Homo sapiens: one gene and its partners. The protein of the gene in region 2 purifies or fractionates together with the protein of the main gene of each other region. This does not show direct contact. Each region holds a gene or a part of one and is shown on either strand. Other genes may lie near its edges.

The links.
Region 1: the proteins of SYT11 (region 2) and PCDHGA5 purify together in Homo sapiens (co-immunoprecipitation; one large-scale study listed by IntAct). This does not show direct contact.
Region 3: the proteins of SYT11 (region 2) and PRICKLE3 purify together in Homo sapiens (co-immunoprecipitation; one large-scale study listed by IntAct). This does not show direct contact.
Region 4: the proteins of SYT11 (region 2) and ACVR1B purify together in Homo sapiens (affinity purification with mass spectrometry; one large-scale study listed by BioGRID and IntAct). This does not show direct contact.
Region 5: the proteins of SYT11 (region 2) and EIF2AK3 purify together in Homo sapiens (co-immunoprecipitation; one large-scale study listed by IntAct). This does not show direct contact.
Region 6: the proteins of SYT11 (region 2) and PRIM2 purify together in Homo sapiens (co-immunoprecipitation; one large-scale study listed by IntAct). This does not show direct contact.
Region 7: the proteins of SYT11 (region 2) and GDPD5 purify together in Homo sapiens (co-immunoprecipitation; one large-scale study listed by IntAct). This does not show direct contact.

What each region holds. Positions count from the first base shown.
Region 1 is NC_000005.10:141,362,701-141,367,625, reverse strand, and holds the start of PCDHGA5 (protocadherin gamma-A5 isoform 1 precursor), read right to left. Parts: upstream 3,465-4,925; 5' UTR 3,296-3,464; coding exon 875-3,295; coding exon of another isoform or gene 854-874; exon of another isoform or gene 1-853. UniProt on the Homo sapiens protein: Potential calcium-dependent cell-adhesion protein. May be involved in the establishment and maintenance of specific neuronal connections in the brain.
Region 2 is NC_000001.11:155,862,567-155,866,967, reverse strand, and holds part of SYT11 (synaptotagmin-11), read right to left. Parts: intron 1-4,401. UniProt on the Homo sapiens protein: Synaptotagmin family member involved in vesicular and membrane trafficking which does not bind Ca(2+). Inhibits clathrin-mediated and bulk endocytosis, functions to ensure precision in vesicle retrieval.
Region 3 is NC_000023.11:49,179,743-49,184,143, forward strand, and holds part of PRICKLE3 (prickle planar cell polarity protein 3), read right to left. Parts: intron 4,176-4,401; coding exon 3,992-4,175; intron 65-3,991; coding exon 1-64. UniProt on the Homo sapiens protein: Involved in the planar cell polarity (PCP) pathway that is essential for the polarization of epithelial cells during morphogenetic processes, including gastrulation and neurulation.
Region 4 is NC_000012.12:51,954,280-51,958,680, reverse strand, and holds part of ACVR1B (activin receptor type-1B isoform a precursor), read right to left. Parts: intron 1-4,401. UniProt on the Homo sapiens protein: Transmembrane serine/threonine kinase activin type-1 receptor forming an activin receptor complex with activin receptor type-2 (ACVR2A or ACVR2B).
Region 5 is NC_000002.12:88,571,965-88,575,464, forward strand, and holds part of EIF2AK3 (eukaryotic translation initiation factor 2-alpha kinase 3 isoform 1 precursor), read right to left. Parts: exon of another isoform or gene 3,483-3,500; coding exon 2,702-3,482; exon of another isoform or gene 2,550-2,701; intron 1-2,549. UniProt on the Homo sapiens protein: Metabolic-stress sensing protein kinase that phosphorylates the alpha subunit of eukaryotic translation initiation factor 2 (EIF2S1/eIF-2-alpha) in response to various stress, such as unfolded protein response (UPR).
Region 6 is NC_000006.12:57,530,107-57,534,507, reverse strand, and holds part of PRIM2 (DNA primase large subunit), read right to left. Parts: intron 2,098-4,401; coding exon 2,025-2,097; intron 1-2,024. UniProt on the Homo sapiens protein: Regulatory subunit of the DNA primase complex and component of the DNA polymerase alpha complex (also known as the alpha DNA polymerase-primase complex) which play an essential role in the initiation of DNA synthesis.
Region 7 is NC_000011.10:75,438,497-75,442,897, forward strand, and holds part of GDPD5 (glycerophosphodiester phosphodiesterase domain-containing protein 5), read right to left. Parts: intron 4,086-4,401; coding exon 3,867-4,085; intron 3,308-3,866; coding exon 3,150-3,307; intron 2,815-3,149; coding exon 2,667-2,814; intron 1,466-2,666; coding exon 1,383-1,465; intron 1-1,382. UniProt on the Homo sapiens protein: Glycerophosphodiester phosphodiesterase that promotes neurite formation and drives spinal motor neuron differentiation.

The DNA of each region.
Region 1 (4,925 bases), on a different chromosome or scaffold from region 2:
CTTTAGAATGCTACATGTTATCATTAATATAAATTTTATCTACTTTTCTGATATTTATTTATTTATTTATTTATTTATTTATTTATTTTGAGACGGAGTCTCGTTCTGTCTCCCAGGCTGGAGTGCAGTGGCGCGATCTCGGCTTACTGCAAGCTCCTCCTCCCGGGTTCACCCCATTCTCCTGCCTCAGCCTTCCGAGTAGCTGGGACTACAGGCGCCTGCCACCACGCCCGGCTAATTTTTTGTATTTTTAGTAGAACAGGGTTTCACCGTGTTAGCCAGGATGGTCTCGATCTCCTGACCTCGTGATCCGCCCACCTCAGCCTCCCAAAGTGCTGGGATTACAGGCGTCAGCCACCGCACCCGGCCTCTTTTCTGATATTTATGACCCAGAAGTTCTCTGTACCTTTCCACTGATTTATGTAAATACTGTAAATTATTTCCTTAAACAAATTTCAGGTAGACTAAAATATCAGTCCTATACATTATCCTTTCCAAAACACATTCACTAATGGTGTCTAGGCAGACACTCAAAAGAGAACAATATATCTAACAATTTGAATAAATAAAACATCTTTTCTATTAATAGAACTGCAGTTCCAATATAACAAAATATTTGGGTAAAATGATTATATTTAACCACTTTCCTTTAAGGTATTTGTTTCACTTAAGTCTACAGATATCAGCTAGACTTCCCAAAACAGAATTTGAAAACAAATGGAGAAAGCATGAATTATATAAAAAAAATTAATCTCCAATACAGCAAATAATGTTCCACTATTTACATAACTAGCTGATTCTGAATATGACAGAAACATGAAAAAGGAAACAAATGAAAATGTTCTGGTCATCCTTACCGAAAGAGAAAACTAACCTGAACTCGCCGTTCTTCTTTGTTTGCATCTACCTTATCAGACATCAGAAGAGGCTCGCTTTTCTCACAGCTCTCTTCACTAAGGAGCGTGTCTGCGTAGTTGGGCTGGGGAAAGATCAGGTGACTCTTCCTCGAGTCCGCGGTGAGGGAGACCTCGTGGGAATAGGTCTGCAGGAAAGCCCGAACCCCATCCACGCCCACAAAGTGCGAGGCGGGCACACCCGCCAACCTGCTGCCTTCAGCCTGAAGCAGGCGTGACTTGTGCCAGCGCCTCAGTCTGAGCACCAGCAGCACGATGACGAAGGCCAGGAAGACGCAGGAGACTGCAGCCACTGCCACCACAAGATAGAGTGTGAGGTCCAGATCCTCAGGGTCAATGGGGGTCTTGATACTGCCTAGGTCAGCCAGGATGTCAGGGATCCTGTCGGCCACGGCAACGGTGACCGTGAAGGTGGCTGACAGAGGGGGCTGGCCATGGTCTTCGACGGCCACCACGAGGCTCTGCTTGAGCGCGTCTCTGTCCAGCAGGGCTCGCGCTGTGCGCACCTCGCCCGTGTGCAGCCCAACCGCAAAGAGTCCTGGCTCGCTGGCCTTAAGCAGGCGGTAGGACAGCCAGGCGTTCTGGCCTGAATCTTTGTCCACCGCTACCACCTTGGTCACCAGGTAGCCAGGTTCTGCGGAGCGAGGCGCCAGCTCCACGCCCGTGGAACCGTCTGTGGGGAGGGCGGGGTACAGGATCTCAGGCGTATTGTCGTTCTGGTCCAGCACAAACAGGCTCAGCGACACGTTGCTGCTAAGTGGAGGGTTCCCACTGTCGCTGGCTGTCACCCACAACTGTAGGTCTCTCAACTGCTCATAGTCGAAGGATCTCAGAGCATACAGGACACCGGTGTCAGAGTTAATGGATACATAGGAGGACAAGGGCGCCCCCTGAAATGTGTCTTCAGCCAGGGAGTAGGTGACTCGAGCGTTGTCGCCGCTGTCGGGGTCATGGGCTGTCACAGAGAAGATAGAGACACCTCTGGGATTGTTTTCTGTGACAGAGGTGGAGTAGGAGGCTTGAGGGAAATTGGGTGGGTTGTCATTAACGTCTGCTACTTTCAAGGGGATGTGGCTTTCTGTAGAGAGGGGCGGGGTTCCATGGTCCATGACGGTTAAAGTGATATTATAATCTGAAGTCTCTTCTCTGTCCAGGTCCCTAGTTGTTAATAGGTGATAGTAATTATCAACTGACTTCTCCAATTTAAAAGGCAAATTCCTAGGAATAGAGCATGCAATCTCACCATTTTCTCCAGAATCACCATCATGTACGCTAAACAGCGCGATTACAGTTCCGGGAAGACAGTCTTCAGAGATCGAACTGGTCAGAGAGGTGAGGATCACTTCGGGGGCATTGTCATTCACGTCCTGTACTGTGACCACCACCTTAGCGCTGGCAACAAGAGCGCCTCCATCCTGAGCTACCACTTCCATGAGGTAGAATCTGGATTCTTCATAGTCCAGTGATTGTAGAGTTGAGATTTCCCCCAGGTTGGAATCAAGTTGGAAAGTCTCCGAAATTTTTTCTTCTTCATTGCGAAAAGAGTAGGTCAATTTCCCGTTTATTCCCTCATCTGGATCCGTGGCGGTTAGCATGAGCAGCCGAGTGCCCACAGGTATGTTCTCTGGAACACTCACGCTGTACTCGGATGGGGTGAACAGGGGCGCATTGTCGTTTGCGTCGAGGACCGTAACACGGATGTGCGTGGTGCCGGAGAGTACCGGGTCTCCGCCATCTAAAGCTGTGAGGAGGAGGTCGTGAACAGTCTCTTTCTCGCGGTCTAGGGGCTGTTCCAACACCAGCTCCGGATACTTTTGTCCATCAGTTCCGCTTACCACATCCAGAGAGAAGTGCAGATTGGAGCTGAGCTGGTAACTCCGGAGAGAGTTCACACCCACATCCGCATCCCGCGCGAAGGGAAGCACTAACCGTGTCCCTGCAGCCGCATTTTCATTAACTTTTACTTTTAACTCTTCATCCCGGAAACGCGGGAAGTTATCATTAATATCGATTATTTCTACTTCTACTCCATAAATTTTCATTTTGTTCTCAACCAAGATGTTAAAGTTCACCACACACAGTGGGCTCTGAGCGCAGAGCTCCTCCCGGTCTATCCTGCCCGCGGTGACCAAGCTGCCGCTTCGCGGGTTCAGGGCAAAAAGCTGCGTCCTACCTCTGGAGACGATGCGGACTCCGCGCTCCGCCAGCTCCTGGGGCTCCAGCCCAAGGTCCTTGGCTATGTTGCCGACGAAGGAGCCTTTGTCCAGCTCCTCCGGCATCGAGTAGCGGATCTGCCCGGATCCTGGCTCGCACAGCGTCCCCAGGAGCATGAAGGGCAGCAGCAGCTCTCCGCAGCCCCAGCCCCTAGGTGGACTCGCCATTGCCTTCTCTCTGCCCAATTTTCTCTTAGTTCTGGTTCAGCCTGCTGTTTCCTTATTTATCTAAAGCCGATGGGTACATATTCCCTGACGAAAATGGGCGTGGAGCGTTGGCTTTTCGTAGGAGCTTGTCTGGTCTGTGTGTTTAGTATGGAGGGAGCAGAGTCGGGTCGCCTCTGCGGCAGCTTCTTTCCCACTTTGGTCAACAGCGACACTCAGAGTCCTAACCAGTGACTGCATCAAATTCCATTTTTATTTCTCCTAAGTTTAGTTATAATTTTATTTCTAATAATGTTGCCATATCCTTAATGTTTAACTGTGTAGCGTTGTTTATGACCGTTAATTCAGCTTTAATTCTGAATAGCAAGACTTCCACAATCCCTGAGATCAATATGATTATTAGATCTCAATACCTTACAAAAATTTTATTTAATGCGTCATCGGGGGAGCCTATGTCCTTTATTTACCTCTTATCTATATTTAGTCCATTAAATTAGGACATTCAAATTCTTACCTTTGTAGGATTCAAGATTTCATCTCCTTATTAGGATAAATTTAGGAAAACGTGCTTATTTGCATATAAGAATACCAAGGAAACAAACCCAGTTCTCCATGCACCTTTCCAAACAGGCCTACTGATTTATGTAAGTTATATTAGCTGTCATATGCAGAAGAAATAAAGATCTTTGTTACTTGTGAGGACTTTGAGAAAGTCTCTCCACTATCTCAGACAGCGTTTGAGTTGGGTTAACTATGCATTTTTATGTTTTTCTATTACCATGTTCAAATATTTGTAGTTCCAGTGACAACCAGTATAGTAACTGTGGAGGATGGGGTTTTATTTCATCATCCATGCAGGAAAGCATGAGCAGATACTTGTCGAGAAGTACTGAGTGACCTTTCTATGTTGAGACAGATATTTACTGCTATCATCTTTATATGACAACAGAAATAGAAAAACCTCTTGATTGAAAAAAATGGACATTTCAGAAAGTCATTTTATTTAATAACACTTTCATAGAAAACTAAGAAAATAAAAATTCTATATAATTAGGAAATTCAAAAGCAAAGTTTTAAGTAATATTTTGTAGAAAATGATGTGAACATAGGTTGTAAGATTTTTCTCAATGTGTAGTTTTTCTTAAGAGCAATTTGTTAAAATGCATGTTAGAGAATGATTTCTCACATTTGTTAAATGCACTCTTTCTAGCAGACACCTCAGACCTCAAACATTGCCTGTCCTTTAGAAATACATTTGTGATTCCAAGACATTTAGCTTACTGAGTGTTGGTCTTCAAGTCAATGGGACAATGTCCTACCCATGCCCTGTGATTAACAAGCCATGCCATTATGCAAAAGTCTTTCTTCTTTGTTTCCCAATTTCCAAAGCCTACTAAAATGAAGACTCTCTTTACTCTGAAGTATTATGATTCTAAGAGGAAGTAAAACTAAAATTTGAATAACAAAGAGCCTGAAGGTGAAACTAATTGCCTAAAGTCTCAATAGCAACAAATCTGCAGAGAGAAGTAATGTAAAGATGAGGAAGAAAAAGAAATACAGTGCAATATCTCATGTGATAAAGGTTTGCAATCATGGGTAAATAAATCTCACACTTCAGAGAGAAAACACTTAA
Region 2 (4,401 bases):
ATGTGTATATATGTATATGTGTGTGTATATATGTATATATGTGTGTGTGTATATATATGTATTTATGTATACATATATTATTCTAAATAGGAAGAAATAGAGACTTTCTCTTTTCATTATTATTACCTTAATAAATCCTTCACTGGAAGAAATAGGGGTTTTCTTCCCTATTAGTGGAAAATGTCAGATCTCTGCTCAAATGTCACCTTCTTAGGCCTTTCCTGACTCACCTATTTAAAAGTGCAATCTTCTCCATCCTCACCACCCACTCTTCCTAGCCTTGCTTAATTTTTTTCAACATGCCGTCATTCTCGCTCTCTGATACACACACCCCTACACATGTAAGAAAAAAATATATAAAATACATACACAAATATGTAAGAATAAACACCCACACGCATATTATTTTACAATTTATTATTTATCTTCACTAGAATATAAGTCTCATGAGGACAAAAATTTATGTCTGTTTTGTTCACGGCTGTACCCTCAGCACTTAAAACACATAGCAGGCACTATGTGTTGGATGAACAAATAACTAAACAGAAATAGGCCGGGTGTGGCGGCTCACGCCTGTTATCCCAGCACTTTGGGAGGCTGAGGCAGGCAGATTACCTGAGGTCAGGAGTTCAAAACCAGCCTGGCCAACATGGCGAAACCCTGTCTCTGCTAAAATAAAATACAAAAATTAGCCAGGTGTGGTGACACACACCTGTAATCCCAGCTACTCAGGAGGCTGAGGCAGGAGAATCACTTGAAGCCGGGAGGTGGAGGTTATAGTGAGCTGAGATCGTGCCACTGCACTCCAGCCTGGGCAAAAGACCGAGACCCCATCTCAAAAAAAAAAAAAAGAAAAAAAAAAGAGAAAGAGAAATAGATTTTTTTTTTGTTTCCCTTACCCTAGTCTTATCTTTTCCCACAAAAATTGGACCCTCAAGTTTCTTCGCTCCCTCAAGTTCATTGAGGCTAAATTGGGTTTAGGCTTTAAAGGTCCAGATTAGGCCTATAGTTTTTTCCACTTTACTTTTTAGGGGACCACTTGGAAGGGAGGGAGAACTAAGGAAATAAATGTAGCCTGGGCAACATGGCAAAACCCCATCTCTACACAAAAAAATTACAAAAATTAGCAGGGCATGGTGGCACATGCCTGTAGTCCCAGCTATTTGGGAGGCCAAGGTAAGAGGATCACTTGAGCCCAGGAGGTGGAGGTTGCAGTGAGTTAAAATCGTGCCACTGCACTCCAGCCTGGGCAACAGAGCGAGGAAAAAAAAGAAAAGGAAATAGACATAATTCCAGCATTTCCCCGATTCTTTCTGGAATATTCTTTTTTTTTTTTTTTGAGACAGAGTTTTGCTCTTGTTGCCCAGGCTAAAGTACAATGGCACGATCACGGCTCACCGCAACCTCCGCCTCCAGAGTTCAAGCAATTCTCCTGCCTCAGCCTCCCGAGTAGCTGGGATTACAGGCATGCGCCACCATGTCCGGCTAATTTTTGTATTTTTAGTAGAGACAGGGTTTCTCCACGTTGGTCAGGCTGGTCTCGAACTCCTAACCGCAAGTGATCCAATTGCCTCGGCCTCCCAAAGTGCTGGGATTACAGGCATGAGCCACCGCGCCCGGCCTAAAGCATTCTTGTATCAGGCATCTGTGCAGCTCACTGCTTCACTTATCGTGAGCCCCGAACCTCACTGGATGAGGGAAATATTTCCTGTCTGCCCCAAGTAAGATAATGTCCCCATCACCCTTCCTTAATTTTCTTCATGGAGCTTATTATCCTGACATATATTTATTATCTTTCTTTGATCACTAGACAAGCTTAATAAAACAGCAACTTTGTCTGTTTTGTTCACTGCTATAGTTCCACGTCCTAGAACTATGCGGCATGTAGTAAGCGTTCAGTGAACAAAAGAGTCAGTGAATTCAAAACAGCCTCCACAGATTAGAAAGAGAGGATTGAGGCCTGGTGCGGTGGCTCATGCCTGTAATCCCAGCACTTTGGGAGGCTGAGGTAGGCAGATCACCTGAGGTCAGGAGTTCGAGACCAGCCTGGCCAACATGGTGAAACCCTGTCTCTACTAAAAATTCAAAACTTAGCCTGGCATGGTGGCAGGTGCCTGTAATCCCAGCTACCTGGGAGGCTGAGGCAGGAGAATAGCTTGAACCTCGGAGGCGGAGGCTGCAGTGAGCTGAGATTGTGCTACTGCACTCCATTCTGGGTGACAGAGTGAGACTCCATCTCAAAAAAAAAAAAAAAAAAAAGGATTGAGTCAAGATGATTACATATATCAGGGATAAATGTAAATTTCTATTTGGACTCAAAAACCTATTTATAGTCAATAACCTCACTTGATGAGTCAAAAATGACTTAGGAATTTAGGCAACCACAATCTTGGACTATAATTAGTATAATGCCTACTGTTTTCCCTTCTATTAGAGGTATCCTCTCCTATCCTCTCCAACCAATCCATGGCTTTTTCTTCCCTCCAAACCTAGATGAAGGGTTTATCTTCTCTAGAAAGCCTATGAGCATCATGAGCACAATACTATGAGCATAATGTCCAGATTACATGAGAGGCAGGTATAATTTCATCTGCACTGGTCATAATATACATGTAATATTGTGTATAGCAGTGACAATAATAAAATTGCTATTTTTTGTGTAAATTTATATGTCCCTGCCAGGCATTGTGGTAGAGCTTACTTTTTTTATTTCTTTTGAGACAGCGTCTCATTTTATTGCCTAGGCTGGAGTGCAGTGGCACAAGCTTGGCCCACTGCAACCTCCACCACCTGGGCTCAAGTGATCCTCCTGCCTCAGCCTCCTGAGTAGCTGGGACTACAGGCACATGCCATCACACCTGGCTAATTTTCGTATTTTTTGCAGAGATGGAATTTCACCATGTCACTCAGGCTGGAGTGCAGTGGCATGCATGATCGCAGCTTACTGAAGCTTTGACCTCCCCAGTTCAAATGATCTTCTTGCCTCAGCCTCCTGAGGAACTAGGACTACAGGCATGTGCCATCATGCCTGGTTAATTTTTTTTTTTTTTGAGATGGAGTCTTGCTTTGCCCAGACTTGAGTGCAATGGCGCGATCTCGGCTCACTGCAACCTCTGCCTCCCTGGTTCAAGTGATTCTCCTGCCTCAGCTTCCTGAGTAGCTGGGATTACCAGCACATGCCACTACACCTGGCCAGTTTTTGTATTTTTAGTAGAGACGGGGTTTCACCATATTGGCCACGCTGGTCTCGAACTCCTGACCTCAAGTGATCTGCCAGCCTTGGCCCCCCAAAGTGCTAGGATTACAGGCATGAGCCACCATGCCCAGCTAATTTTTAAATTTTTTTTAGAGATGAGTCTTCACTATATTGCCCAGGTGGTCTTGAACTCCTGGGCTCAAGCAATTCTGCTTTAGTCTCCACCAAATTGCTGGGATTACAGGTGCAAGCCACCATGCCTAACCAAGGAAGAGTTACATTTTATTTAAAATATATATTTATTGTTATTATTTTTTTAGAGACGTGGTCTCACTCTGTGGCCCAGGCTGGAGTGCAGTGGTGCAATCACAGCTCACTGCAGCCTTGAACTCCTGGGCTCAAGCAATCTTACTACCCTAGACTCCTGAATAGCTGGGACTACAGGACCATGCCACTATGCCTGGCTAATTAAAAAAAATTTTTTTTAGAGACAAGGTGCTATGTTGCCCAGTCTGGTTTTGAATTCCTGGCCTCAAGATCCTCTTGCCTCAGTCTCTTGAGTCGCTGGAATTATAAGCACGACCCACTGTACCCGGGTACATTTTAAAATAATATAGATAAGGAGCAAAACATTATTAACAAAATAAATCAAGGTGACCATGTCTATATCCATACCGAATAATAATAGTGTTTAGTCTCAAAGTATTAAATGAAATAGCTTTTAGGGAAAGTTTTCACAAAATGGAGACAGCCTTGGTAGTAAGCTACTTGAAGGCAGGCAGGAACAATATCCTATGGATCTTTGAATCCCTCAAGAGTCTCTTGCTTCTAATAGGAGTTCAGTAAATATTTGGTTGAACAACTAATTGGATTCAGTTGCCATTAAGAATGGGCACAGCCTAAGGAAGTGGCTCTCCATTCATCAATCAGGTGCTTTCCTGCAAATTGTTTGCTACTCATTAGTGAAACTGAACACTGTCTCTATGAGAAGAGGAACACAGCAAACTACCAAGACAGGCATATTTTTTGGAATGATCATAAAGAGAGATCTGAAGGCTTAGATTAGGAGACACCTGGGCAATTCTTTTGGCTCTATCATAGATTTATTCCCTGCAGCAGTGCGGTGGAGGAGCGGGGGGCAACCCACTGCTGCTTACATATTTACAATGCATCAACTTTTATTGTTAGAAAATGGAGATAGGGTA
Region 3 (4,401 bases), on a different chromosome or scaffold from region 2:
TCTCCCCAGGACTGTTGACGTAGGGGACCTTGTCCTCTGGGAGGCAGCTGAAAAATTGATATACCTGGGAGGACATAGGAGTGGGAGAAAACAACTGAAATGAGAGGTGAGTTGGGATGCAGTGAGATGGCGGGTCCCCATTTCTCAGAAAATGAAAGGCATTAGGAGGGACCTTCTGACTCCCTCATCTCTCCTTCCTAAAGGCGGATCATTTCCCTCAGCTCCCAGCTCCCAAACACGCTGAGGGTTCCTGCATGTATTGACCTCACTTCCTCCTCCAGCTGCTGATCACCTTTTTTTTTTTTTTTTTTTTTTGAGACGGAATCTTTCTCTGTTGCCCAAGCTGGAGTGGCGCGATCTAGGCTCACTGCAACCTCCGCCTCCTGGGTTCAAGCGATTCTCCTGCCTCAGCCTCCTGAGTAGCTGGGATTACAGGCATACCACTATGCCCAGCTAATTTTTTATTTTTAGTAGAGACAGGGTTTCACCATGTTGGCCAGGCTGGTCTCGAACTCCTGACCTCAAGTGATCCGCCTGCCTTGGCCTCCCAAAGTGCTGGGATTACAGGTGTGAGCCACCGCGCCCAGTCTACTGATCCACTTTTCTTTTTCCCTTTACAGGAAAATTCCTCAAAAAGTTATGAGCACTTGTGTTCACTCCACTTCCTGTCCTTCCAATCTCTCTTGAGCCTACTTGAGGCAGGCTTCCGCTCCCATCCCTCTTCCAAAGCTGTCAAGGTCATCCATGACTTCCCCATTGTTAAAATCATTGTTCAGGTCTCAGTCGTCATCAGACTTGATGATGGTAGCACTGCACCGAGCTGACCACTCTCTCTTCCTGGAAACACTTTCTTCCCTTGGCTTCCAGGACACCACACAGTCCAGGTTTTCCTTCCACCTTATTGGCTGCTCCTTCTTTGTCCCTGTTTTGGCTCCTCCTCAACTAGCTGACCCCTAAATGCAGGAGGATCCTAGGACTCAGCTCTTGGTCCTCTTGCCTCTGTCTACATTCAATTTCTTGGGAATTACATTCAACCTTATGGCTGTAAATATCATCTACTTGGCTGGCTAATGTGTCACCTCCAGCCTGTGACACATAATGACAAACACATACGTCCAGCTCTGTAACTTATCCCTTGAGTTCCAGGCAATGTGGCTATTTAGATGTCTAACAGGCATCTCAAACTCCAGATGGCCACAACCAAACTTATGCTCTTACCCCTCAAACTGCTCCTGTCTTGGCCTCTCCCACATCAGTTAATCTACCTATCCTCAGGGTCATCTTTCACTCCTCTTTCTCCCACCCCCACAAGCAAATCCTCTGAGTGCTACTTCCAAAATATAGGCTGGGTGCTGTGGATCACACCTGTAATCCCAGCACTTTAGGAGGCCCAGAGGGGAAGATAGCTTGAGCCCAGGAGTCCAAGACCACCCTGGGCAACATGGCAAAACCCCATCTCTACAAAAAATACAAAAATCATCCAGGCGTGATGATGCGTGCCTGTAGTCCCAGCTACTTGGGAGGCTGAGGTGGGAGGATCACTTGAGCTCAGGAAGTTGAGGCTGCAGTGAGCTGTGATTGAGCCACTGCACTCAAACCTGGGAGACAGAGTGAGACCCCCCCCCATATATATATATGTGTGTGTGTATATATATATATATATATACACGTATAATTATTATACGTATATTATTTACGTAAATTATATACGTAAAATAATTATTTTATATATATGTATATAGATGTATACATATGTGTATATATATGTGTATATATACGTATATATGTGTATATATATACGTATATGTGTATATATATACACGTATATATACGTATATATATACGCGTGTATCTATATACGTATATATATATGTGTATATATATATACACACACATATATATATATTAAATAATTATTTATTAAACGGAATTTTGCTCTTGTTGCCCAGGCTGCAGTGCAATGGCATGATCTGGGCTCACCGAAACCTCCGCCTCCCGGGTTCAAGCGCTTCTCCTGCTTCAGCCTTCCAAGTAGCTGGGATTACAGGCATGTGCCACCACGCCTGGCTAATTTTTTTGTATTTTTAGTAGAGACGGGGTTTCTCCATGTTGGTCAGGCTGGTCTCAAACTCCCGACCTCAGGCGATCTGCCTGCCTAGGCTTCCCAAAGTGGTGGGATTACAGGCGTGAACCACTGCACCCAGCCTATTTTTTTTTTTTTTGAGACAGGGTCTTGCTCTGTCGCCCAGGCTGGAGTGCAGTGGTGCAATCTCAGCTCACTGCAACCTCTGCCTCCTGGGTTCAAGGAATTCTTGTGGCTCAGCCTCCCGAGTAGCTGGGATTACAGACATTTGCCACCATGCCAGACTAATTTTTGTATTTTTAGTAGAGATGGGGTTTCACTATGTTGGCCAGGCTGGTCTCAAACTCCTGACCTCAAGTGATCCACTCGCCTCGGCCTCCCAAAGTGCTGGGATTACAGGTGTGAGCCACCATGCCGGCCTTTCTGTCTGTCTGTCTGTCTCTCTCTCCATATATATATAACTCCTTGCACTGCCAGTGCCATCATCATCAGGTTCCTCACTGGTCTCCTGATTCCACCCTTATTCCTCCAGGCTGTCTTCTGCTGACAACCCTCTTGCGACTTCCCTTCATTCACAGGCAAAGCCAAAGTCCTCTCCATAGCCCCTGCCACATCTCTGACCTCATCTCCAGCTGGTCTCCCCCTTGCTCACTCTGCGCCAGCAGCACTGGCCTTGCCATCCCTTACATATGCCAAGCACACGCCTGCCTCAGGGCCTTGGCATTAGCCATGCCCTTTGCCTGTGTGAATCGCTGTAACCTTAGATGTCTGCATGGCTCACTTCTCACCTCCTTTCGGGCAGCTCAACCATTAAATTCTCACAGAGGCTTATTCTGGGCACCCTATTTACAATTCTAGCATCTCTCTCCTTCCCTCTCTCTTTCTTCACCCCACCTTCCTTGCTTTTTAATTCCATAGCCCTTACACCATCTGACATATATTTACAGGTTTGCTTATTGGGTGTTCCTCCTTTCCAGAATCTACCCTCTGCCTGGGCAGATTTTTTTTTTTTTTTTTTTGAGAAGTATCACTCTGTTGCCCAGGCTGGAGTGCAGTGGCACGATCTCAGCTCACTGCAACCTCCGCTTCCTGGGTTCAAACAATTCTCCTGCCTCAGCCTCCTGAGTAGCTAGGATTACAGGTGTGCACCACCACACCTGGCTAATTTTTGTACTTTTAGTAGAGACGGGGTTTTGCCATGTTGGCCAGGTTGGTCTCAAACTCCTGACCTCAAGTAATCCGCCCGCCTCAGCCTCCCGAAGTGCTGGGATTACAGGCGTGAGCCACCGTGCCCGTGGGCAGATATGTTATTTTGTGTTTTGCTCATTGCTGTGTCCTCAGTGCCTAGAACAGTGTCTCACATGCAGTAGGTGCCCCATAACTATGTGTTGAATGAGTCAATCAATGAAGTCATGTGGTGAATGAAGTGCTGGGAGGGTAGAATAGGGAGTGGGGCCACGCATGGTGGCTTGCTCTTGTAATCCCAGCACTTTGGGAGGCCGAGGCAGGATCACTTGAGCCCAGGAGTTCAACATCAGCCTGGGCAACATAGGGAGACCCTGTCTCTACAAAAAAATTTTAAAAATAGCCAGGCAGGGTGGCATGCACCTGCAGTCCCAGCTACAAGGGAGGCTGTGGTGGGCAACAGAGTGAGACCCTGTCTCAAAAACAATCAATCAAAAATAATAGGATTGGGGTGAACAGGCCCTGAGGAACTGGTCCCTCAGTCACCCAAGGTATGGGGGGCTGACCACTCTTCCATCACAGAGGGGCCAGAAGGACCCTCGGTCTGACTGCACACTCTAGCGTAGCCCCAGAAATAGGTTCCCACCTGAGTGTGTGTGTGTGTGTGTGAGCATTAGTGTGCACCCACTGGACAGCAAGAGTGGAGGGCTGGCCTCTGGTCACCTGCTCCGGCTTAAGGCCTGGGGGCACCCAGGCATACTCCTCCGATGCACAGCCTGAGTCGTCGTCGGAGATGGAGTGGCGCTGGAAGTCCGAGATTAGCCGACACATGATGCGTTCCAGGTCCACAGGCACCGCGTGCACTGCATGCTCCTCCCGCGGGCATTTGCAATGCTGGCAGATCTTTCTGAGGGGGCCGGGATGGGGGTCAATTACTAAGGAGTTGCCCACCCGAACCCCTCGGCAGCCCAGGTCCAATGGAGGAGCGGGGACATACAGATTATCACCACCAAAGGTCTGTGAGCAGGGACAGGGATCTGGGCCTGGGGGCAGGGCTGCAGGAGGTGGGCCTATGAGCCAGGGTGTGGCTGGGCTGTGAGCCAGAGGACAGGTCGTGGGGAGTGGGATGCTTT
Region 4 (4,401 bases), on a different chromosome or scaffold from region 2:
TGCCTGATGATCTTTCTTTTCTTTTTTTTTTTTTTTGAGGAGTCTCACTCTGTTCCCCAGGCTGGAGTGCAGTGGCGTGATCTCGGCTGACTGCAACCTCCGCCTCCCGGATTCAAGCTATTCTCCTGCCTCAGCCTCCTGAGTAGCTGAGATTACAGGCATGCGCTGCCACTACCATGCCCGGCTAATTTTTTATTTTCAGTAGAGATGGGGTTTCACCATGTTGGCCAGGCTGGTCTTGAACTCCCAACCTCAGGTGATCCACCCACCTCGGCCTGATGTGCTTGATGATCTGAGGTGGAACAGTTTCATCCCAAAATCATATCTCCCCTACTTCCCCTGTGGGAAAATTATCTTCCACGAAACCAGTCCCTGATGTCAAAAAGATTGGGGACCACTGCCCTAGATCACCATGGTAGGTACTCAACATGCATATGTTTAGTTTGCAGTCTGGAAATGGGACTTCTAACTACATGTATTAAAATTCTGGTTTAGTGAAATTCTACAATTTTATTTCTACCACTTTTGTATACAGTTCTAACAAAATATGGTTAATGCAAATTTATTTGTAACCCCAATATCAACATTCATGGTACCTTCCTGCTCACTGACAGCCATGCACAGAATAGTGAAACATCTGAAACACCCACCACATGCATTCCCAACTGAGGTCAAACAAGGCAACACCCTGCCTTCTTGTTTCAGCTGGCATACTGTAAACAAGTTATCCTTTCTGCAGTATATTTAGTGTCATGCTTTTCATTGATGATTTTGCTGTATAAAATGGTCCCCCACAAGTAGTGCTGAAGTGCTGTCTAGAGTTCCTAAGTGCAAGAAGATAGTGATATGCCTCACAGAGAAAATACATGTTAGAGAAGCTTAGTTCAGGCATGAGTTAATAGTGCTGCTGTCAGTAAAGTTCAATGTTAATGAACCAACAATATATATTAAATAAGGTGTCTTTAAACAGAAACAAAGCCAGGCATGGTAGCTCAGGCCTGTAATCCCAGCCCTTTGGGAGGCCAAGGCAGGAGGATAATTTGAGCCCAGGAATTTGAGACCAGCCTGGGCAACAAGTGAGACCCCATCTCTACAAAAAATTTAAACATTAGCCGGGTATGGTGGCATGTGCGTGTGATCCTAGCCACTTGGGAGGCTGACAAAGGAGGATTCCTTGAGCCCAGGAGTTTCAGGCTGCAGTGAGCTATGATGTTTTTGGCTTTTTTTTTTTTTTTTTTTGACGGAGTCTCACTCCGTTGCCTAGGCTGGAGTGCAGTGGCGCAGTCTCCGCTCACTGCAACCTCTGCCTCCCAGGTTCAAGTGATTCTCCTGCCTCAGCCTCCTGAGTAGCTGGGATTACAGGCACACCACCACACCTGGCTAATTTTTGTATTTTTAATAGAGACGGGGTTTCAGCATGTTTGTCAGGCTGGTCTCGAACTCCTGACCTCATGATCCACCTGCCTCGGCCTCCCAAAGTGCTGGCATTACAGGCGTGAGCCACTGTGCCTGGCCTATGATACACTCTCGTACTATACAGCCTGGGTGACAGAGCAGGACACTGTCTCAAAAAAATAAAAATTAAAAATAAAAATAAACAGAAACACATGAAACAGGCCAGGTTCAGTGGCTCATACCCGTAATCTCAGCAGGTGAAGCCCAGGTGAGTGGATTGCTTGAGCCCAGGAGTTCAAGACCAGCCTGGGCAACATGTCGAAACCCTGTCTCTACCAAAAAGTAAATAAATACAAAAATTAGCCAGGTGTGGTGGTGTACACCTGAGGTCTCAGCTACTCAGGAGGCTGAGGTGGGAGGATTGCTTGAGCCTGGGAGGCAGAAACTGCAGTGAGTGAGATCATGTCACTGGACTCTAACCTGGGCAACAGAGCAAGACCCTGTCTCAAAAAAAGAAAAAAAAAGAAACACATAAAATAAGGTTATGTATTGACAGGTTGAAAAAGTGACCAGAGGCTCGCAGGAACCTAGCCCTGTATTTCCCCTAGGAGCAATGGTTGAAGATTTGGTAATTCAGTTCTACAATTCAACTTTATGGAACTACCACAAATAACAAGACTGTATTAGCCCCATTTTACAGATAAAACAATGAAGCTGATAGAGAGGTGAAGTGGCAGCTCCAGGCACACTATGGCACAGCATCCTGTTTTATTTTCTTCACAGCACTCATGGACTGATAATTGTGTTTACTTATTTATTTTCAGTCTAAGCCATTGCAATTATAAGTTCCATAATAGAGATTTAGGGACTTTTGTTCATCTTGTTCTCTGTTATTTCCCCATGCCAAAAACTGTTCCAGGCACATACCCAATCCAATGAATAAAGAAATCTCCTATATGTTAACTGTGTAAATATTAGGTGTGATGTTATGGTTTAAAGGGAAAGGCAGTTACTTTCATTATGCTAAATTCAAAATATTTAGGGAGACAAATGCAGGCTTAAGACTGGGTGGACACTAAAGAAAACCAAAAAGCCCAGAGTTGCCTAAAGTGGCACTGTCTCTGAACCCTAGAGAGCAGATAAAGATTGCCTGGGATGGAAACTTCACAGCTAAACCAAAGTATGGCAACTCTACAGAGTAAAGGAAAGAAAGATACTCTCTGAAATCATATTTTTGCTTAGCACACCATTTCTCCATAACAGAGGAGAGAGAGCAGACATGGACAGAAATGGTGCCTCTGAAGCCAAAGCTCAAGTTAAACCTGCATGAGAGTGAAAAACTGAGAACAGAAACTCAGAGCAGGTATCTGAACCTGGCCATGAGGCAGTGCCTGCAGAGTGAGAGAAATGTAAGTTGGACTTAAAAGGTTCCCGCATTCCCAGTCCAAGTGGAACTGATGGGCTGTGGCTGCCTGCAGTTATGTCCAGCATCAGAAGCACTGGTGAGAAAGGACTCTAGGATTCCCTTTTTATGAATACAGAGAGGAAAATGAGATTAAGACCCTCTTACACCAACTCCTACAACAACAGCTAACACAAGAACTGAAGACAAACAGGCGAGATCCCAGAATTAATGTTCACTGCTACTCTGAGCAAAAATTGAACAGTAAACAATAGAGATTTCAAAATTATAAAGAGCCACTTCAGTATTCTAATTTAACCTTCAAAAATTAAGATGACCTAAAGCACCACGAACTGATAATTCCATTCCACCTCAACACCCTGTGCTCCTCAGCTATTATGAGAACAGACTGCAACCCAATTCAACTCATGTTCCAAAATGCAACAAGCAGCTTCAACAGGACATGCTGGAAGAAGCAGCACGTCTCATCGTTTACTGATTCATATTTTGGTAGCAAGGTTACAATTAGCTCACCGGTGGAGAATAAACCTATTTATAACACAGCAGTCCACCTGAAAGACATAATCATCTAAAAAGGTTCTTAGAGGAAAATAAGTGCAGGTTCTTCCTGTACTGATTGCAGATTCCCAAGGTCCTTTTGGATAAAGTCCTCAGTCTAACCTTCCTGTGTTCACAGTCACCATTCTGGCCACTTCTCAGCCTCCATGTTCTTATGTAACATTTACATAGTGCCATAAACATACCCAGAGTTGCGTAAGAATTAAAACGTTGCCAAACCAATAAAGCCTAAAGCAGGTCACTCCCTCCAGACTGTCTTTGATTAGCACAGGTATGCTGCCTAGTCGACGATGTAAGAGCCTGCCAGAGACAGAAATTAACTTGAGGAAATCTGAAAGGGGTCTACAAAAAAGCACAAAAAGAAAACCACACTGTGACATGCTGTACGTCTATCAATCACAGAGTATGTTTTTCTGCTCCTTAAGATAAAAAAGTAACCCAGCATTGCTTATTCACTGAAGTCAGAAACTGTGTCTAAAAATACCTCCCCGCCAACTGGCTATCAGTAAGTCAGTCTCACAAATGTCCCAATAAGAGTGACACAAAATATTTCCTTATTTTTACAGAGGGAAAACTGAGGCAGTCACAGAAAGGTTAAGTTACTTGTTCAAGGACAACTTGTAAGGCAGCTAAGTTCTAGGGCTGAAAACCAGCCTCCTCCCTCCATCTGGCTTTAACCTTTAACCAGAGTAGCCATTTTAATATGTTTTATCACATCTGTTCCAGGAGCTGTTTAAACAAAACTAATCAGAGGTCTCTACAAGACTGCACTTCCACTGTACTTAAAATCCATGTCCACTCAACAAAATTACAAGGCTTGGCTTGAAATTAGATTTTTAGTCCGCTCACAAAATTTCAAAATGTTCCTATGAGAATGTCAAATATCTCTCTTGTTGCTTTTGTCTTGAGAAATGAATGTCATGTTCTCCTGCTACTAACTCAATTTTACATTTTTAAATGTGAAAATTCCAAAGCCAGGCCTTAAAACATGTACACCTATCAAACGGATGCTATTTCTAACTGAA
Region 5 (3,500 bases), on a different chromosome or scaffold from region 2:
CTCTGCGGGTAATATGACCACCATTCATAGCCCTTGAAATGAGGAAAAAGGAAGCCATTTAGCTCATGAAATTGAATTTCATCATGTTTCAAATACTGCCAGAAAATAACATTGCATTCCCAAACTCTAAAATACCATTAAACGATTTTGACTTGGAAGCATGAAGTTATTGTGTATAAGATCTATGGTAATAATCTGCAGCTCTCCAATAAATAACTTTGTACCAGAGGCAATAATAGACTATCCTGCATTAAATGTCATCTTTCTTCCCAACTCCCAACATCTGATGGCAGTTGTTATTTACTGAACCCTATAATAGACAAGCTTTTTGGCTCTCCAGTATCTATCTCCCTGTGCTTCCAGCAGAAGTATCTTGACTTTACTTTGGGAACTTCCTTCTTGCTGACTGTGCAGCAAAACCCCACGGTTAGTGTGGAAGGCATCCATGCTCTAAAAGTTGCTTACGCCAATCCATGGAATCCCATTGCCTGGCTAGGGATTGTTGAGGGATGGGTAGGTGTCCTTGGTTTAAGTAGAATAAAATTTCTGATAGTGGGAAAAAGCAATACTTTTCTCTCCACCCTCTACCCCACCAACTCCAAAAGACTTAAATAGAAACAAGAAATGGGGAGGACAGAAACCAGGTTCTGGCTAAATCACTTGATCTCAGCTAAAGCTTTACCTGAATTCTCAACAGTTTAGCCATGTGGGCCAACAGATTTCCTTTTCTGGTTAAGTCAGTATAAACACTTTTGAGTGCAAAGAAAATAAAATTCAAAATAAATGGTATGACCATCTAGAACATTCAGGCATTGTACTGAGACTATAACAGGTAAAAGAAACAGATATGGTTCATACCCCATAGAAACCACAGAATAAATAATCCAGGTGTGATGAGAATAATGAAGAAGGACCAGGTTTCTGTCAGAACAGTGTATATCAAGAGGAACTGAGAAAAGTTCAGAGTGGAGAAAATAGAAGACTAGAAGTTAGTCTGAAGAGGCAGGAGCCAAAGTCCTGAAGACAAAAATGTGACCAAAATATAACAGGGGGAGAGGGCCTAGAAGGTTTAACATTGAGCTCAAAGATTTAGGTCAGAACGTAGCAAAATGTACAGCTTTTTCACCCAGGAACAAAAATCTTGGCTTTTTTTTTTTTTTTGGTTGGGGGTGGCGCACTAGAAATCTTTAAAAGGAATTGTCTTCTATTTAGAAAGGAATAAAACTTTCTGATTTCTAGAAAAACTAACAGGAATATTAACTTTCTTCTTGCAATTTTTCTGGTGCATAGACAATTACAGAAAAATCTTTAGACAACATTGTAGCATTAAATGGATATTTACCAATATCTCATTTACATTATAAAATTAGCAGAAGAATATTCATTATTAGTGAAAACATGATTCATTGTCTTTCAAGTTGGCATTTGTGTGTACAGCAAGTGTTAAGTACAAGAAGAATGTGTATTTCAGCTAGCTGTTTCCCACCTAGTGATAAGCGTTTACTATATTCAAACCTAACTGCTAGTATTCTCTCAAATTAGGGGTGTGTGGTCTCCTGTAAACTGTCTTCTCCAATCCAACCAAATAATTCATCTCTGAACTTTTCATTCAGTGCAGAACAATTCTTGGCAATCAGTTTGGGCCCACGTCAAAATCACTGAAGCATAATGATTTATATGACTAAATAACAATTATATTAAAAAATAAGAATTATTTCTAATTCCTATTCTTGTTACCCTAAAACTCTTAAAATATACCCAAGAATTTGAAAACCTACTGCTGATTTTAGAAGAAAATAACTTGTGTCCAAATAGCTACTTTTGTGCCTGAAACAAGTCTGTTTTAAGTCTGAAAAGACTTAAAATGGATCCACATCTATCAAGACTTTAAGCTACTTTCATCAGAAAAGTATTTATACATTCACTCCACATCTACTGGTGATGGCTAAGAGTATATGGAATGTGGGAAATTAGTTAAATAAAAGTTCCATGTACTTATTTTTAGAAACACTACTACGGAAATGTCATGTTTTAGTAAGACTCTTTAATAATTTTGCATATTATATTACTGCAAAATTCACTACTGAATATATTGAAAATAGAATCCAAGGTTTTAGAGCTGTAAACAGTCATCTGTTAACTATTTGCTACCTTTCCCCATTCGGCTTCTTACCCCTTCCCCCAAAGTCTAAACAGTTCAGAAAAAGAAGCAAAAGTGTGGAGATTTGCCCCAATTCAAGCTGGCTAATGAAGGAACCCATGTCTCTCCTTCCATTCGGATCCCTTTCACCATGCTGCTTCAGAGCCCTGGAGGTATTGGTGTCAGGGTTACTCAAAACCATAGAAAAACAAAAACAAACAAACAAACAAAAAAACAGGCTATATCTGCTCATGGTGGATTTTACCTAAAGATTCTTTTTTCTTTTTTTTCCCTCACCTGGACTACTGAGAATACCTTTTACAGTAAAATGAACACAAACACATTACTGAAGACAATGAATGCATGGTTTGCCTAAAGTTTTCAGACATAAGACTTCTTATTCTTGCAGCAGGCCCCTTCGAGGCTACTTTCTCAGACCTCTGCTCTCAGATGCTTTTACTCTCCCCAACTCTTAAGGATCCTTCAGAGTACTGCAAGTACTGCTCTGAATCACAAAACGTCAGATTGAAACCCCAAGGGTGATGCTCCACAAATACAGACCTTGAGGTCCCTGTGCATCAGTCCTTTACTGTGAAGAAACTCCACTGCCTCTGCGATCTGCAGGAAGATGTGCAGACACACGCTCCTCTCTCTCTCCTCTATGGTACATCGTCCATTCATCCAGTCTTTGAGGTTTTCTTTTCTGCACAGCTGCATTTGAATGTAAAGATACACCTTTGGTGAACTGGGCTGGAGTTTTTCTGTGGTGTTTTTAGTGAGATCTAAACTTAAAGTGGTTGGTCTTGGAGGAGAAATAGACAATGTAGCTTCAGAAGAAGATTTGCTACTGGTGGGCTTGAAAGCAGTTAGTTTATTAGCACAATGGTTGCCAATATGCAATCGATTAGTTTTCGGCTCTTCTTTACTGGAAGCATTATCACAGCCAGAATCTTCAAATACTATTGAAGAGGAGGTTCTCTCCCTTGACCTTACATAAGGAGAAGCTTCAGAAGGACAAAGTTCAAAGGAGTGCCCCTCATCATTGCCATCCATAGTCCCATCTTCCACATCACAGTCTGTAAGGCAACTGTCCTGGAGGTTGTATGCTGCATCCACTGACTCACTGATGTCCTCATGGTCCATTCCTGAGAATTCCAGTGGTGAGAACTGGCTCTCAGATGAACTTGTCTGGTCACAGGAAATCCCTACTGAAAAAGACCTGCTTCTTTGTGGTGAAGGAGCTATGATTTCAATATGTTCTTTTGTAGCGAAAGGATCCATTCTGCGTATTTTAACTGATGGTGCATCCATTGGGCTAGGAGAGCTGAGTGGCCAGTCTGTGCTAAAAGTGGGAGAAATA
Region 6 (4,401 bases), on a different chromosome or scaffold from region 2:
AAAAAGATAGTGTCTGGCTATATACAGATAGAAAAATGATCATGGAAAACAAGCAAACAAAAGAATCATAAGTCCAGGATAGGGGATAAATTATCAACTTGGATCTTGCAGAGGCCAAGAACAATAACAACAATAGCGCCAGTACACAAGACCATTAGCTAGGTGTTCAAATCATCAACGAATACAGGTGTGGGGGGAGGGGGTCGAATAGCAACAAAGGAGGTATCAGATGATATAATAAGATCACAAGGGCTTTAAAGGAGCTGGAGCTGTAACAATGGAAGGCAGAGAAATGCGGACCAAGAAAGACACTCACCGCATACCTATATATGAACTCGGGGGGAAAGTTGTCTCTACTTGAAGAGGCCCACAGCGGAAACAGCATTGAGAAAGCCAGATTTGTTAGAAGAAAAAACTAAAGAAAACATTTGGAGAAGAGTTGCAAATACCAAGGGATATGCAAATGACATGCTGTTGTGAAGATCAAACAATATAGATACAGAGTTAGGAGGCAGTCCAGAAAAAGATACATCTGTATTACTCACCACGGGGTCTCAGGCACAGACCCATGACAGGATCATCATCATAGCACTTAACATTATATTGCTCATTTATTATTTATTATGTTGTCCCTCTCCCTCATGTAAGGTCCATGAAGGCAGGGACATTTTCTGTTTTCCTCACTTCTGTATCCACAGCACAATGGCTGCTACATAACTGATGGGCTCAATACATATCCATTAAATGAATTAATATTTCTATGAACTCCAACAGTATCCAATGAAATTCACATTTGCTTGTGAATAGGGAAACATCTAGCTAGAACTAAGAACAGAATTAACCTCCAACCATTCACATTATATAAGCACAAATCACATGAGTGGAAGTGAGAAAGTGGACTGTTAGAGATAAGTGTTTAATAAAAAAATTAAAAGATGGGACATCTTTGAGAACAAATTTCAAATCAACAAATCAACTGTGTAAAGTAGGCAACCCTACTGTTATTTCTAGACATATTAACTGCAAGTACTTTTTTATAATTTTTCAAATGGAAGACGACCTATTCATTCTGATCCAAACTCACGTTCTTTCTCTACTAGTCTTATTACAGTTCTTGTTTCCAAGCATTAAAATCCCTGTGTATTTTTAATTTATTGTGAATAATTTGGTAGTTGTCTAACCCAAGATTATTTATGGCTGGCTTATTTTCCCTTTGTGTATGGAGTGCAAATGCTGTTATGTATTAAAGAGAAATTCTACAAGTATGGCAAAGTACGCTACCCTATGGAACCACAAAGTCAAATGATGCTAAAATAAGCTATCTATTAATCTCGTAGCCTACACTGGATGATGAATTGTCCTCTCCCCCTGAAATTCATATATCAAGTCCTGACCTCTAGTAGCTCCAAATGTGACTATATTTAGAGATGGGGCCTTTAAAGAACTCATTAAGATTAAAGGAGGCCATGGGGGTGGGGCCCTGGTCTCACATACTCAGTGTCCTTACAAAAAGAAGAGACACCAGGGATGTATGCAAGCAGTGGGAAAACCACAGGAGAACACAAGGAGAAGGCAGCTATCTGTGAGACAAGAAAGGCCCTGGAAGAAATCAAACCTACTATCCCTTTGATCTTGGATTTCGAGCCTCTAGACTGTGAGAAAATAAATTTCCGTTGTCATGACAACCCTAACAAACTAATACACTTAGTGTTTTCCATTTCCCCTTTATTAAATGTATACACTATTTAAATGTAAACACAAACTCCATTTAGCTATTTAAAAGAATTCCTGTTTGGAATAGTTGATTAAATTCTGTTTTCATAAAAGTACAGATAATTTTCTGATTAAATGATTTTCTTATGATTTTTTTTAAAATCATCTAAGTGGGACATGGGATTTTCTTTAAAATTAATCAGCAAGCAGTGAAATAATATTCTATCTCCTCACCCAAAAGTCTTTGATTTAAGAAAATCTATGTTCCCTCCATTGATAAAGTTCTAAGTTTAAAATAATGTTCTACTTACCAAATCAATCTGATCTAAAGAAATCTTCCCAACATTTCCCTGGGTACTGTAATCTTGGCCAGTGTAGGAATGACTTTAAAAAAAGAAAAAAAAATATTAAAACAGATTCATAAAATACTTTTGATCCCTTCGAAGGAAATTTTTTAAATTCTGAAAATGATTAAAATAAGAAAGCATTTTACATGTAAACCTTAGCAGAAACATAGCCAAGTGTTTTAAACGTATTTAATGAAATTAATTTAAGTAACTTACCCCAAAATAATAGAAAAATATAGTAACAGTCTGAACCTCCTGACTCCTAGTCTAGAGCACCACTTCCATTTTTTTAGAAGCATAATCCAAGTTGTTGTTAAAGTTCAAACCTCTACCATTTATCCTTTATTAACAGCACGACAACATAGCAAAAAAGCAGCTGGAACTTAAATTGGGAATCATCACTTAAAAGTAGTAGGTGAGCAAGTTACTTAGTTACTCTCTGTATGCCAGGTGCCTTATTGACTAATGGCGATAATAATGCCTGCTTTGCAGTGTTGATAGGAGGTCTGAATTGTAAGAATTTTTGTTAAAGAGCCTGACATAAAGCAATCACTGTTTATTAAAATAAATAATATCTGAATAGCATTTTACAGTGTACAAAGAGTCTTCAATAGCCTCTAATTAGATCCTTGCAACCCCCTGAAAGAGCGTTTCTGTATATCATCTGATGAATGGAGGCTTGGAGGAGTTAGAAACTTGTTAGGATCAGAAAGCAAGTCAGCAGTGCAGTGGGAACTCAAACCTTTTGATTCCTAATTCCCCATTTTTTCACCGCACCATATCATCCTCTTCCCTATAATAAATTTTCCTGCATGATTATCTTCAAATTAGGAAACATAACTTGGTATATACTACCTTAAGCCACCCACCTCAGTAATGTTTGACCTCCTTCACACAACACACTACTCATGCCCAACTCCATGAACACAGACTCAGGTGCATGCAGGTGTGACATAGCAAAAAACAGCTGCTAGATTACATAGAAATTCACAATCAAACCAAAGATTATACAAATACCACAACTAAAGGGAAACCCTGGAGTGAAGAGTCATTATGATCATAAAGAATTCCACCTGGGCAACAGAGTAAGACTCTGTCTCTACAAATAATAAAAATTAAAACAAAAACAAAAACCTGGGCATGGTGGCATGCCTGTAGTCCTAGCTACTCTGGAGGCTGAGGTAAGAGGATTGCTTGAGCCAGGGAGATCAAGGCTGTAGTGAGCCATGATCATGCCTGAGCATTCGAGCCTAGGCTATAGAGCGAGACTGTCTCAAAAAAACAAACAAACAAACAAAAAATCCAGATACTACTTTCTATCTGCTCAGTTACAGATTCTACCTGCTGAACCACATATACGCTCAAGATGCTCTGTAGACAGGCTGTTGTTTCCATAATCAATCAATTTTACTGATTAAACAATGGGTATGGATTATGAAGCAAAACCACAATATAGCTGGCTCACACCTGTCATCCCAGCACTTTGGGAGGCTGAGGCAGGCAGATGGCTTGAGCCCAGAAGTTCAAGACTAGCCTAAGCAACATGACAAAACCTTGTCTCTACAAAAAATACAAAAATTGGCCAGGCATGGTGGTGTGTGCCTGTAGTACCAGCTACTCAGGAGGCTGAAGCAGTAGGATGGCTTGAGCCCAGGAGGTGTAGGATGCAGTGAGCTGAGATCATGCTCCACCCTGGGTGACAGAGTAAGACCTTGTATCAAAAAAAAGAAAAAAAAAAAGGTACAGATTTCCCCTCCCTGCAAGTCCTCCTCCTACAGGCTAAGAAGGACCTGAGAATTACTCTGAGAGCAGGATGAGTAGACTAATACTGAGGGAAACCAGAAGATGCCACCCCCCAAAATATGAAGGATTATTGAGTGAAGGCAATTTAAGAAGAAGCAGATTCAGGAAAGTTCTCCGCCCTCCCTCTATCTGCCTAAAAGCAAAACACAGATTCACAAAGACAAAAGTCATCCTGCCCACCTTTTCCCAGTGAGAACAAAGGTTGATCAGTGAAGATAACTTCAGATTCTTATTATGTGGAGATGATCCCAGAGGAAACTATATGAACAAGCTTTACCAACTGGTCTTTATCTCCCATTTATTTGCCTTCTCACAAGTTGCTGCCACCAGAGACTCAAAGTCCTTTTCCTTTGCCATGTCACTTCTCTAGAAATTTATTGCTCTTAGTTGAATTTGCTATGTAAACTTGAATTGAAAGCACCTTTTTTTGAGAACCACTTACTTTCTGGATGTTTTCCATGCATATGTCTTCCATAGCACACACATGTGCTATGGTTTGCATATCTGTCCCTTCCAAAACTCATGTTTAAATTTAATC
Region 7 (4,401 bases), on a different chromosome or scaffold from region 2:
GCATCAGCAACCAGTGTATGTGGATGTTGGTCAACTGGGCGGACACAGGAATGACTCAAGGAATGTCCCATAGCCAGGGACAGCATCTCCTCCTAGAAGCTGATTGGTGAAGCTGCCTGACCCAGGAGGGGCTAAGGCACTAGACGGAGGGAGACGTGGGTCCCTAAGCTCTAGGTCCCATCCTGGAAATTCATGTTGAAACCCAGAAGGACAGTGTCAGGCCAGGGTCTCTCGGCCAGGCATATCCAGAACAGGAAGCTCAGCCACTGTGGGGTCCTCTGAGGGGAATGAGGAAAAGGCTGTGTGTTGCGGGGAGCAAAGCAGGGATGGGTGTTAGAGATAGAATGTAAAGAAGAGAGAGAAAGAGATGGGAGAGGCAGAGAAAGGTAAACAGGAAGAGTGAACAGTGGGAGAGGCAGAGCCAGGGAGGGAGAAGATGGGAAGAGAGAGGCAGAAACTTGGTAGGGTCTGCCCTGGGCAAGTGGTGAAGGCCCCTGTAAGTGCCAGAGGCAGGGGGATGGGGGTACCCAGGCAGGGTCCCCTCCCCCAGGGAGACACTTTGGTGCAGAGAGGGGCCAGGTCAGGAAGCTGTCAAGGAAACGCTGGTCCCCACCTGCAGAAACGGCCGTGGGAACAGGGAGCAGAGGGACACACACGGCAGTGGGACGGGAGGAGCAGAAAAGAGGATTGCGGGGGTAAGGGAGGCTTCAGGCGAGCGCGCTGTCTGCGAGGTGGCCCGGGCACAGGGCTTGGTGCACGGTGGGTTTTTAGACAGAACTGGAGAAGGGATGGCAAGAGGGAGAAAGAGGAACAGAAGGAGGAGGAAGACCACACCAGAATTACCTGATCAAGTGATAGCTGTGAGATGCCAGAGTGCAGCAGAGAGAGGGGGAGGGGGAGAGAGGAGGGACATGCGCCGATCAGAGCAGGATGGGACAGAGAGAGAACATCAGTCAAGAATAAAATCCCAGCCCCTTGGTTCCTGGCTGGGTGGGGGCCCCAGGCTGGCCCTAGACCCTCCCTGGGACCAACCACACCTCCCCACTGCGAGCACACCCCAGCTATCTTGCTGAGGGCTGGTGGGAACCCATGCCCTGGCTAACAGATGAGCAGGCCAGCCCGGTGAGGAGCTGAAATTCACCTAAGCCCACATAGCCACCCAAGGCAGAGCTTGGCTCTGGGATCCCAGCTGCATGTTCATTCCAGAAGTCACCCAGCCTCTGTCTGAGGGAGGATGGGGCCACCGGAGTCCGTCCTTCTTCCCTGGTCAGGCCTGCTCCTGGCTGAGGCCCAGGGCTCAGGAGAGGGTTCACCTGGCTGGGGTGGGGGCTGGGCCTGCTGCAGGGTAGGGACAGCCACGGAAGTGGTCAGATCCTACTCACTTCTGGAGCACGAAGATGCCCACGATGAGGGTGAAGGAGACCAGGTCGGCAGTGACCCACATGAGACAGTACTCGTCCGGGGGCTGTGGACAGACGGCCCGAGGCCAACTTCCAGTCATGGCCAGTCCAGACTGAGGCTCCAGACTGAGGGTCCGTGGACCAAAGGACCCCACATGGCCACTGGGGAAGGGCAAGGGAGGACCCTGAGAGGGTCTGGGGGCTGAAGATGACATTTTGCAGGTGTAGGCTCCAGGCGCTGTGGGCCTGGGGGCCGGGGCGTGTGTGTGCACACGTGTGCACTCTCAGGGTAGGAGGGGACTGTATGGTGCTCAGGGCAGAGGGGTTGTGTGCTAGGCCTGCAGGGTCTGTGTGTCTAGGGTCCTCAAAGCAGGAGCCAGATACTGAAAGACAATGGCTTTGCCGCCCCCCGCTGCCGACTCTCATCCATCGGTCTCGACCCTTTCCCCAGGCTGCCTTCCCTTCACCCTCCTCTCCCATAGAACCATCCACAGCTTAGGTCTGATTCATTGGCACTGCATTCTCTCAGCCATAAGGATACCCTCCACCTGCCTTCTGCATGCTCAGGGTGACAGTGGAGCCACCACCTATCTGCAGGTGCCCAGTCAACCAGCTAAAATATTGCTTTATTTGCTGTTCTCTGAGCAGATTTTAATTGTTTCCTATTCTTTTTTATTTTTATTTTTTGAGACAGGATCTCACTTTGTCATCCAGGCTGGAGTGATCACAGCTCACTGCAGCTTTGACCTGCTGGGCTCAAGCAATCCTCCCACTTCAGCCTACCGAGTAGCTAGGACTACAGGCGTGTGCCACCTTGGCCAGCAAATTAATTAATTATTATTATTTTTTTTTGTAGAGACAGGGTTGCCCAGGTTAGTCTTGTACCCCTGGGCTCCAGTGATCATCCTGCCTCTGCTTCCCAAAATGCTGGGATTATAGGCGTGAGCCCCACGCCCGGTCAATGCTTCCTATTCCTGTCCTTGTTACCCTCCAAAGCAAAGAAACCCAAGCAGCTCTTTACTTCTTTAGAGCCCTTAGTGATGCTTTTCTCCCTGTGGATGAGGCCCAGGGTCCTCCCAGCACCTTAGTGCAGATCCCAGATGCCATGAAACCCTCATGCCTCAAGCCTGCACGCCCACCATGGACTCCCCACCATGCTAGAGACCTCCCAGGGACAGCTCCAAGCACAGAGCTTGCCGAGTGGTCAGGGCAGGCTATAGGCAGCTCCAGCACTGCCCCCCAGGGGCCCTCTGCCCCCCAACTCACCATGATCCAGAGGGGGGAAGGCACCTGGGACAGGGCGTGGGAGTTGTCAGAGGTGACGGATGGGACCCCCGCACACCACAGCAGGGAGAAGAGCCACGGTGCGTTGACTGTGTAGAGGTTCACACTCAGGTTCCAGGACGCGTAGTCCCTGTGGGGCAGGGGAGAGGCAGGTCAGCATGCGGACCCTGGCAGCTCCAGGCCCAGTGTCGGGGCTGGTAAAGCACGTCCTGTTCACGACCTCACAGCCATGCCCGGGGCAAGGAACATTGGCTCCAGAGGGCCAAGCTCCGGGACAAGCCCGGGTCTGCCCGACACGCTCACCCTCTTGTCTTTGAACCATGTGTGCCTGATTCCTCTGTGTGCCCATCCCTCTGCCCGACCGTGTGTGTGTGTGTGTGTGTGTGTGTTGGGGGGTGGTGGTGGCAGGACTGGGAGAGACTCAGTCCCACCCTCTCCTGGAGGAGCCCAGGGCAGGGCAGGCACCTGAGCTCCTGGCGGGACACCTGAGTGTAGCGCAGGTTCAGCCGCTGGATGTGGCCTCTCCGCAGGCTGGCGACTGCCTCCTTGGAGCCTGATGTCTGTTGGAAGCCGGGAGCCACCTTCCGCACCAGGGGCCTCTGCCTGCTAGGCAGCCACATGACCTGCAGGCAGAAGAGAGGCAGCCTCAGACTTCTCTTCTGCACGATGCGTAAGAGTACCTACTCCTCCTAGAGCACCTGTGGGGTTAAGAGACAGGACCTGGCAGGCGGTGAAAGCTTAGATGAAGTCATTAGCAGGGCAGGACTCAGTCCCAGCCAAGGCTGCAAAGTGCACTGGCAGCAACTCAGGAAACTTCGCTTCTGGCCTGCTGTCAGTACGGGAGGGAAAACCCAAACAGCCACTACTCTGCACATGGCCACTAGCACCTAGTGTGCCGTCCTAAACTGATGTCAGATTTCTCTGGTCCCAGATTATTACACCAAACGACAGGGCAACACTTCACTGAAATAACTTGACCGCCTGGACCTTTATACATTTTAAAGTGTTTTCTTGTTCCCCTCTTGTCCCATGATGACCCTGCCAGGGAAGTGAGCAGTGTGTGATCCCCATTTTACAAATGGGAAAGCTGAAGTCCGGAGTGCAACAGGGAAAGGCTATGCAGCAGCAGGGCTCTAGCCAGGCCAGGGCTCCCGGGGGCAGAGCTGCGTTGCAGGGCCTCACCTGGTGCTGGGGGAAGCCGGAGTGCAGCACGGCCTCCAGAGTCACGTTGATAAAACTGCTGCGGTAGGGGTGCTCCCGGGGCGGGTCACGCAGGTTGAGCAGCAGTGTGGCATTGCCCTTGGCCAGCTCCAGGAGCTCTGCCAGGCTGCAGATGGACTGGTTCTGGGCCTCTCTGTGGTCGGAGGGTGACAGGGAGCTGGCTGTCCAGAAGGGGTCAGTCTGGCAGGGACAGGGACACACACATGGCTGCATCATCAGCCCTTTGGGGGCCCCCACATACCCTTCTGGCAACCAAGCGTGGAGACCCCTGGGCTGCCAGAGTCTGCTGGGGTCAGGCAGATTGATGGCTGTGGCCATGTGGAGGCTGTAGGAGGCCCCAGCCCTAACCTTTCTACCCCACACCCTGCTTACCAAGAGGACGGAGGACGGCTTGCTTGGAATCGCTCCCAGACCCACAGCATTTCTCCTTCTAGAGCATTTCAGATCAGAGAGCCAACCCCTCTCTAGAGTTTTACAGAGTTAAGAATTCTATTCA